Linked DNA regions of Homo sapiens. The protein of the gene in region 1 binds, or shares a complex with, the protein of each later gene. Each region holds a gene or a part of one and is shown on either strand. Other genes may lie near its edges.

Region 1 (7,126 bases):
TCCCACAGCTTGGGCCCTTTTTCTTTCTGCATTCAATTTTGTCAGAAGGTGGTGGCTTCCCAAAGGAAGGGTTGAAGGACAGACAAAATTACTATGTCTACTTCTCAATTCCCAGGCTATTTCAAAGAGAAATTTGTTCATACATTTCTAGTCATACTTAGTAATACCTGGTTAGAAGTTTAATGGGAGGAAAAACATTATATTTGTCTTTAAGATCAAGTGGAACACTGAAGTTTGATGGGAGGAAAAACATTATATTTGTCTTTAAGATCAAGTGGAACACTGCCTTTGATGGCAGACCTCCTAATCAAAGGGCTTTATCCTAAGAACCTATAGAGATACCCTTAATCAATTTTTCTCACTTCTTGCCTTATATAGAGAAGCAACACTGGGTTGGGTAAACTAAGTGATTTTAAAAAAAGAACGCATAAACATTCTTTATGATTAGCAAAAGATATTACAGAAATAATTCTCATGCTAGTTTCTGGAGAAAGCAAAGCTAAAGAAAGCCATCTAAAAAAGCTGATGTATCGGTCAGGAAAAAATATGGCAGACTCTTAACTGTGAATTGAAGAAAGTGAAGGAACTGTTTATAAAGGTTTGAGCAGGGTTATAGGACTCTAGAGGAAACTATAGAATCATGTTCACTGGATGCATGAAAAATGTAGTGCCATCCAACTGTCTTGTCACAGTAGTGCACCAACTTTGGAGTCAGACCGATAAGGGATCCAATATCAGCTTTACCATTTTCTATGGGTGTGATCTTTGGCAATTAAAAAAAAAAACTGTCTGCATTTCAGTTTTCTCATCTGTAAAATTAAAGATGATAATATCTCTAAAGGTTTTTGAAAGAAGTAAATGAGAAAATGTAGCTCAAATTGTAACAACATCTGACACAGTGCAAAAACCATAACTATTAAATCTAGTTATCCTCCCTTATTTTATTCCTATTAGAGATATTATAAAGTTGGCCACAGAAACTTATTATTGAGGATCACGTTTGAGGATTATTGAGAATCACGTTTGGCTGTAAGTAAATAAAAAAAAAAACAAATAAAAAAGCTAGAAGTTTATTTCTCTTTCGTACAAAACCAGGTCTAGACAGGCCAAGTTTGACATGGCTGTTGTGTTCTAAAAAGCCCACATACACCTTCCATTTTTATGTTTTGTCATCCTTACTGAGTGGCTGTTGTCTTCCTGGTTCAAGATAGTGGTCATTGCATCCTTGTTGGGTGTGGCAGAATGAAGGAAGTGAGGAAGAACTGGCAAATGGAGAGCAGCAGCAGTCCCTTTAGGAAGGTTCTTGACAGCTTATATCTTACTGGTCAGAACATAAGCTGCAAGGGAGGCTGGATGATGGATGTACTTTTCCTTTTTTTTTTTTTTTTTTTTTTTTGAGACAGAGTCTCACTCTGTCACCCAGGCTGGAGTGCAGTGGTGCAATCACGGGGCTCACTGCAACCTCCTCCTCCCGGGTTCAAGTGATTGTCCTGCTTCAGCCTCCCAAGTAGCTGGGATTACAGGCACGCATCACCATGCCCGGCTAATTTCTGTATTTTTAGTAGAGATGGGTTTCACCATGTTGACCAGGCTGGTCTCAAACTCCTGACCTCAAGTGAGCCATCCACCTTGGCTTCCCAAAGTGCTGGGATTACAGGAGTGAGCCAGCGTGCCTGGCCTCAATTTCTCTCTTTCTTTCTTTCATCTCTCCTTCCTTCCTTTCCTTCCTCTCTCCCTCCCTTCCTTCTTTCTTTCCTTTCTCCCCTCCCTTCCCCTCCTCCCTCTCCTCCTCCTTCCCTCCCTCCCTCCTTTGCTTGCTTGCTTCCTTCCTTCCTTCCTTCCTCTCTCTCTCTTTCTTTCTTTCTTTTTAAGACAGGGTCTTGCTCTGTCACTCAGACTGGAGTACAGGGGTGTGATCACAGCTCACTGCAGCCTCTGCCTTCCGGGCTCAAGTGATCCTCCCACCTCAACCTCCAGAGTAGTTGGGACCACAGGCACGCCACCACCCCCAGCTAATTTTTAAATTTTTGTAGATATGGGGGTCTCCCTATGTTGCCAAGGCTTGTCTTGAACTTCAGGACTCAAACAATCCTCTTGCCTTGGCCTCCCAAAGTGTGGGGGTTACAGGTGTGATGGAGCTTGAGCCTAGCAGTTGAAGACCAGCCTGGACAACATAGGGAGACCCTGTCTCTACAAAAAAGTTAAAAAGTTTAAGAAAAATTCCCGTACACTTGTTCTTTTTAATGCAAAATGTAGAGAAAGACAAAAATTGTAATTCATCTACATCTAATCTCTTTTACGCAAATATATACATTTCATTACAGTCTAGGGCCAGTATGTCTATGAATTAGTGACAATAAATATTGAATAATGAGACTACTATCTACAGCGTTCTCCTATTGGGTACTTCCTGAGTTATAAGCAGCTACTAGTATTCAAGTTTATATGGCAACATGATAGTTTTTCTTGGGGAGTAAGAGTTGTGTTCAAATTTATAATACAGTGCCATTTTCTTGTTCTCCCTATACAGCAGTTTTTAAAAACTAGAAAATGAGACAATCTTTTATTGGTAGCACTCTGTAATTCTGCGTCTAGACTTAGTTATTTGTAGTCTCCCTAAAGGAGCACATATTTCCCCAATGTTCAACATTTTTAAATTTTCTTATCTGGCTACCCCAAACCCCTCCTCGCAGCCTCCCCTTCTCAGGTCTGCCCTTACTATTCCAGGCCCCACAACCTTGCCTCCTCTAAATTAAAATGTTAACTATCAGGCTGAGAAGTAACCAGATAAATTAAATTCCTTGACCAGTTAATGACTAGTAATAGCTCGACAGATGATCTCTCTGAAGTGTTTGTATTCTTAAGACTCTCTAGGTACAAAGCATTCATTCAAGGTACTGCAGCTTTGTATATAGAATTTCAGGCACACTGGCAGGTATGATTATGACTTCTTTTGGTGGGAACAGGACTCTTTTAAATGCCCCTTAGATTAAATCCATTCAGTCCACTCCTTCTTTCTTGTTGGAATATTAAAATGAAGATTTCTTTACGAATAGTAGATATAGTAGCTTTAAAAAATATTTTAAAGCTATTCATTACAATTTCCTTTTCTTAAAGAGTTTTGATAAATCCAGTGATGGCTTATTACTCTTAGAATGTCTTATTGAATGTGGCGGGACATTTTGTTACTGACTTAAAATTAATGAATATAATATAAAAAATTAACATATCGAGAAAAGGCAAAGCCAAAAATATTAGAGGCCTGAGTCCTCTTGGCTGAAGTTTCTCACCTCAATTACGTAAGTCCTCAGTTAGTTCACTTTTGGAATCATGTCTAATACATTTGACAAGGGAGTAGCCTTGGAGTGTCGCTAAGAAGAAATTGATCAGGAAAAATGAGATGGCAAAGAAGAATGTTTCCAAGAAGAAGTGGGATTTAGGGTGGAGGCTGTAAAAAAATGGGAGCGGTTCCTTTAGGCATTGAACAAACATTTATTTTTTGCCTTCCACATGCCAGGACCTACTGCGTCTCCTCCGGATGGGTGCTCCTCGCCGACAAAGTCTAGATTGTGATTATCTCAAGGACTTGAGTTACCCTCACTTCCGACCTCCTCTCTCACAAACTGGTTCCAGGCGGGGAGACTGAGGATGGGCTGGGGAGGCTGGCAGAGGCGATCCCCACCTCGCGGAGCACAACATCTGCTGTGTTCTGCGGCGAGCGCCTGTCAAGCAGTGGGAGGAAAAAGCGCTTGGAGCCACCAGCCCACTCTTAAGCGAAACTCGCCTGGAAAACACCCCGCCTCCCAGCAGAGTTTCTGCCGGTTTCTTTAGAAGGGTGGTGCGGAAAAGCAACTTTTGGGAACTTGAAGGAGTGGGGTGTGGGGCGAAGTGGAAAGAGCACACAACGCGACCCCACTCAGTCCCCGCTTGGGACTCCCATCCCGGCATCAGGCGTAGTGGGCGGTCCGGGCCAGGGCCAGGGCCAGAGCGGCGGCGGCGAGGCCATGCCGAGGGCCCGTCGGCCGCAGTTCCCCGTCCGGCCTCGCGGGGGCGCCGGCGCTGCCGATCAGGTGACCGAGGGCCCGTCCGGGGCTGCGGGAAGCGGCCTCGTTCTCAGCCGCCGGAGACGCCGCCGCCGCCGCCGCCGCCGCCACACCTAGTGGAGCAGCCGGGGAAGGCGGCTCGTTGGGGGCTGGGGCGGAGAGCGCCGGGGGTGGGGGCGGAAGGGCGGCGGGCGGAAGGCAGGAGGCTGCCGGGGCGCGGGCTGCTGCGGGAGAAGGGGCTCCGAGGAGTCCGCCGCGGCTCGCTCTGTCGCCGGCGCGGGATTGGGGCGCGAGGGCCATGGGCGCGCTCTCCTAAGGCGGAGGTCGCGGGCGGGAGGGGAGGAGGCCCGAGAGAGGCTGCTGCGAAGGCCGCGGGCCCGTGACTGGGCGCGAGGCGGCCGGCGGCGGCGGCGGCACCAGCACCACCATGTCGCGCTCAGTGCTGCAGCCCAGTCAGCAGAAGCTGGCGGAGAAGCTCACCATCCTCAACGACCGGGGCGTCGGCATGCTCACCCGCCTCTACAACATCAAGAAGGTGCGCACGGGCCGGGGAGGCCGCGGCGGAGGCGGGCGGGCCCGGGAGGGATGAAGGGCAAGGGAGGCCGTGGGGTGGGGGCGGCAGGAGGCGCCGGGTGTAGAAATCTCGGCGTCGCCGCCCGAGGCCCGGCCCGGGGTCGCCTGGATGCGCCGCGGCCTAATGCGGAGTCCCGGGCGCCTCTCCCTGTGGTTCGCCGGCCGGCCGAAGGCAGAGAAGCCATTTCCCGGCTCCCGGCGGCGGGATCGGGCGCTGGGCCTCGCACGGGGTGGGGGCGCCGCTGGGAGCCGGGAGCTGTCCCCTCCTCGGCGCCCCCGCCCCCATGATGGGGCCCATAGGAAAGGGAGGGTGGTGGGTGGGCGAAATTCTAGGTGGGTAGGAAAACTTGAGTGTTCCATATTCTTACGGAGATGGCAGCAGTGAACAGGGATTACACCCCACATCCCCATTTTTTGGTGTGGGAATGTGGGTAGAGAAGGGCTGATTGGATGAATCCCGTATCCCCTCCACTTTGCCACTTTATTTTAGATTGCTAAATAAAAAGCCATTGAGAGTGTGTTGACGATTTGGGATTATTTCATTTTGAAGGTGGAGAGGAGGGGGAAGTGAGGGTGGAACCAATTTTCTGAAATACTTCTAGGCTGTGAGTCACTAGAACTGGAATAACAACCTTCTACTCTTTCCCCTGTACTCCTCCTCATGTTAGATTTTCCAATACCATTTCTTAAAGTTCGGTGTCTGTACAAAATAAAAACCGTAAAAATGTTGCAATTGCTGCTGATTTATAGCATAGTCTGATAATTTGAGCAACTATAGCTAATAGGCCCATTTAAAGGCTTTTACATGTCCTCAGTACAGTAAGGAGTGGAAGACCACTGGAAGTTTAGAAAAGTCCATGTAAAGATAGAACAAATAATTACATTCATTATCGTAGGACAAAACAACAAAATCTCTCCCCTTAAGGCAAGGTTGGTAAGTTTTAAACAATTTGATAAAGAGAAAAAGAGATATTTGGAAAATTTAGATCCATCGAGTTTCCAATGTGTCTTTGATGTCATACCTTCATAACTATTTGTTGGCTTTTTAATATATCGTGAATGTTACCGTTTAGTTTAATCATAGCAATAGATTGTAGGTTGAGAGGGCTTCTGAAGAAAGGTTTTTTTTTTTTTCTTTGGAAATTCATTTCCAAGCGTTTGAGTGTAAAATTGATTTATTTTTTACAATTTGATGTAGACACTAATTCTAAAGAGTGTCCTGGTTTAATGATGATAAATTTTGGATAAGGACAAAGTCTGGTTGCTCACCTAATTGCAAGGCTTTATTACTCTAAACCCAGTGCTATCTGGAGAGTAACTGCAACATGCTTACTCAGTTTGTTACCTTTTATGTGGCAGGAGCTCAGTGTCATGACAAAGAAGCCCCTCTGCATTTACCAAGGAGCCTAGGTTATAAATTTATATAGGTTAGGAATAATTCAGTTTTAAATAGTATTACTTAGAGGTTGCATTGACCTGAACTGTTCGGGGAGATTGTGCTGCTTAAAAAACTTGGAAATTGATTCCTATATGAATTTTGTCCAAAAATGAACAAGTCAAATATTATAAAAGTTACTAGACCTGTGGTATTGTGGTTTAAAGGAAATGGTTATGATGGTTTCTAAAAGAGGAAGTGAGAGTAACATCAAAAGTGATTTGGGTATTTGGGCAAAATACCTTTTCTAAGCATTTATTAAACATTTTTGTAGGATAAATGCAATCAAACTTTAATATCCCACCTTCATAAATAAGATTAAATGAAATTCTGGGCATTTGAACTCTAATAATTCCAGTTCATTGCCTTTTCTCAAAAGCACTGTTTTTTTCACTTCCTGTTTTGGGAAGCTTCAGCCTCTTGTATTATTGAACTTGTGAAAGTTAAAATGCATTGAATGTGATCATTATTATATCCATGTCAAATATTTTGATTTATTGAAACGTCATATTTTAGCACTTGCCTTATATTTTTAGTTTCTTAAGAAATACATTGCTTACCTTGCTTGAGTGTGAATTTTCTCTGGGCAGGGACAGTGTAATTTTTGAAATACTAGAGTATTTAGGGCCTTATCTGATACTCGAGGCCTTCAGTTAGGCCAGGTTGAAATGAATGAATTACTTCCCTCCTCTCTCTCAAAACCTGTGTGCTCTAGTTTTAATAATAATACCCTTGGGTTTGCTCCCTTTGTGTAATTTTGCATGTAAATGAATCAGATAAGATTTTGGATCTTTCAGCCTATAGAATTGTCTGTGAGTCTGGCATATCTTCCCAGCTGGCTAGGAATTGAAACATTTGTTCAAATATCTTGCCAAAGAAGTGAGTAAGATCTGTTCACCATGTGTTTATTAGGTTCATGCTGTCTGCATTCTTACTGCATTATAAACCACATACTCTTTTCAATCTCAACCTCTTCTAGTCTTAAAAAAAAAACCTTCCACCTCATAATACATGTTTGCCAATCAATTATCACATTTTCATTAATGCATGTGCATTAGATTGTCTACCAGATCTA
Region 2 (7,772 bases), on another chromosome or scaffold:
TAGTTAAAAGTCAACAGAACCAAAGAACTAATAAACTGCCGCAAGAACTTAAATGCACCACAGCCAAAAGAGTTTCTCAGCTACACACCTTAGCTAAACTGGACTGCACTTTCAAACTGTAGAAAAACGAAATGAAAAGTGAATCTCAGAACAAAAATCACCCAAGCAATAACTTAGCTCACCTTATTTAAAAATTCTCAAAGCACACGTGAACTGCATACTTTCACTGAGAAGAGATATATATTTAGGAAGAGTATTAGTTATAAATAACCCAATCAGGTCACAGGAAGGATACAGAAAGACCTCAACAGACACCCTAATGGATATTTCTAATATTATTCATTCCCCATTCTTAGCACCAAAGTCAGCAGCACCACCTACCACATCAACTTCCACATCACTTTCTGAGCCTGACCCTGTCTGAGTCCCTTAGGGAGGCAACTAGTGGCCTGGATCATGCAGCCCAACGTATAAAGGCTACTAAGGTATTTAGATAATCATTGCTTTGCGTGAATTCTTTTTTTTTTTTTCCAATATGAACAAAACACCTCACTGGTGTCAGATTTAGGATTATACCCCACCCCGCCCCCACAAAAAAAGAAAAAAAAAAAAAAAAAAAAAAAAAACGGGGCCACTGACTGTGGCTATTCGTGCACCATGGCACTAACATTTTATAAAGTGAGAGACTGTATGAAAAATAACATGACTTAATTAGAGATATTAGCAATGAAGTTTTAAAGTGCTTCAAAGTTACATGATTGTAGCAAGAGGAGTAAAGGAAAGGGGTCAGAGAGGGGTAAAAAAAAAGCATTACAACATACAACTACCTGAAAAAGTAATAGTACACAGACAGGTTAAAACACGTTTACAGTTACTAACAGTTGCCAACACATAGTTACCACACTATATACTTGTCAGATTTCCCAACATGCAAAACAAAAAGGAGCCACCCCTGTATGAAGCACTTATCTACTGACTTCTACAGAGAACACATAACTTTTCTGGAAAGCGAGAAATTAAACTTACTGTGCTCTCCTTTTGGCTTTCAAAAATCTTTAAAACTTTCAGCAAATTAAGGTTCTCCTCAATTTCAAGGCTTTTCATGTTAAGTTGAATAAAAGTTGCCTATTTTTAATATCGATAAACTACGAGATCACTTTTATATTTGCAAACCATATCCACATCCCTACTAGATTTTTAAAAGTTTTTCGAAGGGCTAAATATAAAGTTTGCACAAAGTGATACAGTAGATGTGGCAGGCATTCAACAAGTTCACTTATCAGGAGAATTCCTAAAGTGAAAGCTTGAAAAAAAAATTGTGAAGATAAATTCCGAGTAGTGCTACTGAAGATACAATGTTACTAACATGAAAACTGAGAAATATTCAAAACATTCTGAAAACAGCATCTCCCTCTAAAAATAAAGAGGGGAAGCATTTGCCAACACAGAAACATCGGTTCTTAAAAATTATAATCACATGGGAGACATTTCTATAAACAATTTAGTTCTGAATTGCAATAACCCTAACCTTTCAAAGCACGTTTTGGCCTTGCCTTACCAAAAGCAAGAGCATTCCTGGTGCCTTTATATTTATACAAAGGACTGTGCTACTTTGTTTCTAGCGCAAACTGTTGGTTTACACAGTTAAAGATCTTCAAAACAAACTACCACACACAATTCACTTCCAATCATCCAAAGAGAAACGAACAAACAAGCATCTGTCACAAAGTCCCAAGAGTTTTCTAATTTACAATAACAGATATTTTTACGTTGTAGTTCAGAGGCTACCTCTGTTCGTTTCTGTATTTGGATTCACATACTATACATTTACTTAGCTTGTTAAGAGAGAAACCTCAGAAAATAAGCAACCGGCGATGACACCAGTCTATTTTAAGTTACTTATGAAGCCTACAGCTCAAGAACTTTTGGGAGAAGGGAGGGTAAGCCGTTTTTCCAAGGAGTTAAGAACAATTCGTGTTTGATAATTAATGATAGCAGCCCTAACAACCTCTTAGAATACATTATGGTGGGGCGGAAGTGAAAACGATGAGAGGGGGAAAAAAATAAAAAAAACCCGACTTGAAAATGGACAAGCAGACAGATTTACAAACCTTCAATTAAAGGAATTTTAAGATGAACTTCTCTCAAACGCCCTCCCTCACTCCCCACACCCGCTTCCTCCTCTCCTCCGGGAGGTCGGTGTAATGTGACTCATGACAAATTTTTTTTAAATAAATAAATAAATAAAAGACACACCCTCTGGGGGCTGAAACTGACATAATCGCCCCCACCCCACCCTCCGCCGACACACAACACACACCCCGCTGGTCCTCTCCCTTCTGCGGCTTCAGCCTCGTCCCTGCCCTCTCCTCTCCCCTCTCCCGTCCTGGACCTCCTCTCCCGGCGCAGAGAGGCGGCGCGGCGGCAGCTCGGGGGTATTCCGGGACTCCAGCCCTGCGGACTGGAGGCTACCTGGGGGGCGCGCGACCCCGGTGGCCGGGCCCTGGGGGAAGCGGACGCGAGGGGGGCGCCGGGCTGCGGCAGCGGCGGGCTCCCGGCTCCCTCGCCCATTTTCTCTCTCCCCTTCTATCGGTTTCCACCACCACAGCCACTTCCTGTATCGCAGCCCGACTCCCTCAGCCCGGCCACTCGCTCTGTCCCCGGTTGGGGCTGGGGTTGGGGCTGCGGTAGGGGCTCGGGTTGGTGGCAGCCGCTGAGGTCAGGGCAGTTCCCCACCCCGCCCAGTGGGCTGGTCACTCCGGCGGGTCCTCGACCCGGCCAGCGCCCGCCGGCCGCCAGAGCGCCTCACCTGTATGTAGTTGTTTTCACAGTAGTCTGCCACCCGAGTCAGGTTCTGGTAACTCTCGATCAGCGCCCTCTTGCCAGACGGGATCTCCTCCTCTAGTAACATCTGCAGCTCTGCCATTTTCCACCCCTCTGCATCGCTTCCTCTCGCGTTAAAGAGACAGAGGCAGCAAGGTCCGCCGAGGCTCCGAGCACCTCACAGCCCGGATACAAACCGCCTACCCGCCCTCCCGCCTGGTATTGTGGGACGGCACCTCCTCCCCTTCCTCCTCACTCTCTCCAGCCCCCCTCCACCCCCTTCGTGCAGCCGCCTGAACCTCGTTCTCTCGCGAGCGTTTATTTCTCCCACCCCCACGGACCGCGGGATTTTTTTTTTCTTTCGCACTGTCTTCTGGGAATTGTAGTCTCTCCTAGGCTAGGCGGCCCGTCCAAAGCGCATGCGCCCAGACACCTCCGAAAACCAACGCGGCAGAGCGCAGAAAGCGGAGACCGAGGGTGGAGGGAGGGGGCGGTGTTGGGGGGAAGTCCGGAGTTTCCTCACAGCTCCGGAAGGTGGCGCCACAGGGTGATACTGGGGGAATGAAATCGGTTCCCCAAGTTTCATGTGAAACTTGGCAGAACTTGGTTAATTAGGAAATGTCAGTGAATCAAGGACACCCATTCAGAGAAGGATTAAAAAGGGGACAGAGTACGGAAAACTAGATTTTTACTTCCTCTGCCTTCTTAGAAATAAAGCGAGTCAGGCTTTACTTTCTGAAGTTCCGCCCCCATCAATTCATTTAAAATTTAGCAAACATTTCTTGATTGCCAGCTGTTTACCAAGCAGCGTACTAGACACTGGGGGTACAAGTTGAGTACGAATACTCCGTACCCTTAAAGACTCAATTATAAAATAAACATACATAGCTTGTAGTGCTTTCCTGTCCTAATTTCTCTTTTCTCTGACTCTCCTTATCATGTAATCTTCCTACACTTTTAAGGTCATGTGCACGTTTTTTTAGGGGTGGGAGTTGTTTGCTTGTTTGAGACAGGATCTCACTGTTACCCAGCCTGGAGTACAGGGGCACAATCATGGGTCTCTGCAGCCTAGACCTCCTAAAGTCAAGCGATCCTCCTGCCTCAGCCTCCAGAGTAACTGGGACTACAAGCGTCGGTCACTACACCTGGCTGAGCTTTTTAATTTTTTATAGCGACAGGGATCAAATTATGTTGCCCTCGCTCGTCTCGAACCCCTGGCCTCAAGCAATCCTTCTGCCTCAACCTCCCAAACTGCTAGGATTACAATCATGAGCCACCCACCCTGATCCTTCGTTTTTTGCTCCTGGATTTTTGTTTTGTTTTGTTTTTATCACCTGCTTTGGAATAGTCTCAAAAGGCCCTATATTTCAAGCTCTTCACTTCAACAGGAACATTAAATGCTTCGGATATAATCAGCTATGAAAAGTGTTGTCCAAAGACTTTGGACATATGTTCATGTATCTCCATAAAGTCATTTAGAATCAAAATAACTAGGAGTAAAAACATCACTCAACCAAATTAAAAATTGCCAGCACCAGGTATTTATTGAATATTGCCTTTACTGGGGCCTTATTCAGGGCCCCAGGGAACCAGTTTCCCTCTTCGACCTCTGAAAGGAAAAACTCAGTTTCCTACTAAAAACGTTAACTTCCCCTTGCCACCAGATTCTCCATCAAGGAATCTATCAAAAGATAACTATTATACCTATTCCAGATATTATGGAAAGTAATACATTTATTATCTGGAATAGGTGTAATAGTTATCTTTTGATATTTATCGTTAACCCAAACACGACTTAATCCAAGTTATTAAAATTTAATGTATTATTGATCTTGGTCTCTACTTGAGGTTTAACTGTAGAAATCACTCAGTTTGTATATATTCAAATATTGACACATTTCAACAACATTGGGGAAGTGATTAGGGAGGTGATACTAATTTACTATTTTCAACGTACTGTCCATGCAGTTGAGCAATGAATGAATAATAATGATGATGATGATAAATACAAATAAAAAGTACTGTCAGATTTCTTCTCACAACTCTGAGAGACAGATAATATAAATATTATTTTCCTTCCTTATCAAATAAGGAAATTTAAGCTTAGATAGGTTAAGGAGTTTAGCTAAGGGCACTGAAAATGCCGTCAAGTTTCCTAGGTTACTGATTGATATGGTTTGGATCTGCATCCCTGCCAAATCTCATGTTGAATTGTAATCCCTAATGTTGGAGTTGGGACCTGGGGGAAGCGGGAGTGGATCATGGAGCAGATTTCTCACGAATGGTTATGCAGCATCCTGTTGGAACTCTCCTTATGATCTCGAGTGAGTTCTCCTGAGATCTGGTCATTTAAAAGTGTATGACAGCCCAGTGCAGTGGCTTGTGCCTGTAATCCCAGCACTTTGGGAGACCAAGGTGGGAGAATCCACTTGACTCCCAAAATGGGAGACCAACATGACGAACTACTCCCGCTTGAGTTCCAGACCACCCCGAGCAACATGGCAAAAACCCGTCTCTACAAAAAACACGAAAAATTAGCCAGGTGTGGTAGTGAGCACCTGTAGACTCAGCTACTTGGGAGGCTGAAGTAGGAGGATTGCTTGAGCCTGGAAGGCACAGATTGCAGTGAGCCAAGATCACAGCACTGCACTCTAGCCTGGGTGACAGAAGGAAACCATGTCTAAAAAATGAAATAAATGTATATGACACCTCCCCGCCTGCCTCCTGCTCCCCTCCTGCCACATGAGACATTTCTCTTCCCCTTTGCCTTCCTGCCATTTTGGAAGCTTCCTGAAGCCTCCCAGAAGCAGAAGCAGCTATGCTTCTGGTACAGCCTTCAGAGCCAGGAACCAATTAAACCTCTTTTCTTTATGAATTACCCAGTCTCAGATAGTTCTTTATAGCAGTGCTAGAATGGACTAATACAGTGATCTTTCCAAAATCCAGTGGACAGTGCAAACTTGTACAAATATTTGTGGCTCATGTAAAGTTCACTAAAAGAACTTATCCCTCATGCCTTAAAGGTGAGGAGGAACAGGAGCAGGAGGAACAGGAGTAGGAGGAAGGAGAGGAGAAAGGGGTGGAAGAGGAGGGGGAGGAGGAGGAGGAGGAAGAAAAAGGAGAAGGAGGAGAAGGGAGAAGAAGGAGGAGGAGGAGAAAAGAAAAAGGAGGAGGGAGAGAGGGAGCGGGGGGAGGAGGAGGAGGAGAAAAAGAAAGAAGGAAGACGAGGAAAACCAAAACCTGGGAGAAAATATCTGCAAAACAAATATCTTGATAAAGGAGTTGTACCCTAATATATAAACAACTCTTACAGTTCAGTAATAAGATGACAAACCAGTTTTTTAAAACAAGCCAAAAGGCTGGGCACAGTGGCTCACACCTGTAATCCCAGCATTTTGGGAGGCTGAACCAGGAGGATCACTTGAGCCTACGAGTTTGAGACTAGTCTGAGCAACAGGCTCTCTCTACAACATGTATGTTTTTTTCAAGTAGCTAGGCACGGACTGGGCACAGTGGCTCATATCTGTAATCCCAGCACTTTGGGAGGTCAATGTGGGCCGACCACTTGAGGCCAGAAGTTCGACACCAGCCTGGCCAACACGGGGAAACCCTATCTCTACTAAAAATAAAATACAAAAATTAGCCGGGCGTGGTACTTAGGCAGCTGAGGCAGGAGAATTGCTTGAACCCAAGAGGCAGAGGTTGCAGTGAGCTGAGATCATGCCACTGCAGTCCAGCCTGGGGGACAGAGGGAGATTCTTATCTCAAAAAAAGAAAGCAAACAAACAAAAAAAAACGGCACGGTGGCTCACACCTGTAATCCCAGCACTTCGGGAGGCTGAGGCGGGCAGATCACCTGAGGTTGGGAGTTCATGACCAGCCTGACCAACATGGAGAAACCCTGTCTCTACTAAAAACACAAAATTAGCTGGGTGTGGTGGCACGCACCTGTAGTCCCAGCTACTTGGGAGGCTGAGGCAGGAGAATTGCTTGAACACACAAGGTGGAGGTTGTGGTGAGCCAAGATTGAGCCGTTGCACTCCAGCCTGGGAAACGAGAGCAAAACTCTGTCTCAGAAAAAAATAAAACTAAAAAATAAAATAAAAAAATAACCTACTGTATGATTCCTCTTCTAAGAAATTTTAGAAAAGGCAAAATTACAGTGATAGAAATCAGATCAGACTTTGCCAAAGGCTGGAGTAGTGGTGGGGTGACACCAAAGGGATGCAAGTGAACTTTTAGAGGTAAAGGAAATGTTCAATATCATCACTGTACTGGGGGCTACATAACTACATACATTTGTCAAATCACATTGAATTGCACACTTAAAATCTATGCCTTTTGCCGGGCGTGGTGGCTCATGCCGGTAATCCCAGCACTTTGGGAGGCCCAGGCATGTGGGTCACATGAAGTCATGAGTTCAAGACCAGCCTGGCCAATGTGGTGAAACCCCGTCTCTATTAAAAATACAAAAATTAGCCGGGTGTGGTGGCGCACACCTGTAATCCCAGCTACTCAGGTGGCTGAGGCAAGAGAATCACTTGAACCTGGGAGGCGGAGGTTGCAGTGAGCCAAGATCATGCCACTGGACTCCAGCCTGGACTACAGAGTGAGACTCCATCTAAAAAAAAAAAAAAAAATCTGTGCCTTTTATTGCAACTAAATTATACCTCTGAGCTGGGCATGGTGGCATCCCTAGCTATTCGGAAGGCTAAAGCAGGAGAAGCCCAGGAGGCTGAGGTTGCAGTGAGCTATGATGGTGACCCTTCGCTCAAGTCTGGGTGACAAAGCAAGATCCTGTCTCAGAATAAATAAATAAAGTATATCTCAATGAAACTGGACAAAGAAAATGCAAGCAGGGAAACAATTCCTTGCTTCGAATAATAAAAAGGGAAAAACTACATATTTTTGTTGTATTTGATGTATGATGAAAAGTATAAGTGAGTGAA

Evidence for each region. The genes of interacting proteins can lie anywhere in the genome.
Region 2: NCKAP1 (region 1) and ABI1 share a complex: the UniProt entries of both Homo sapiens proteins name them as parts of the WAVE2 complex.

What each region holds. Positions count from the first base shown.
Region 1 is NC_000002.12:183,035,444-183,042,569, reverse strand, and holds the start of NCKAP1 (nck-associated protein 1), read left to right. Parts: upstream 1-4,112; 5' UTR 4,113-4,470; coding exon 4,471-4,578; intron 4,579-7,126. UniProt on the Homo sapiens protein: Part of the WAVE complex that regulates lamellipodia formation. The WAVE complex regulates actin filament reorganization via its interaction with the Arp2/3 complex. Actin remodeling activity is regulated by RAC1.
Region 2 is NC_000010.11:26,857,938-26,865,709, forward strand, and holds the start of ABI1 (abl interactor 1), read right to left. Parts: upstream 3,022-7,772; 5' UTR 2,927-3,021; coding exon 2,810-2,926; intron 1-2,809. UniProt on the Homo sapiens protein: May act in negative regulation of cell growth and transformation by interacting with nonreceptor tyrosine kinases ABL1 and/or ABL2. May play a role in regulation of EGF-induced Erk pathway activation. Involved in cytoskeletal reorganization and EGFR signaling.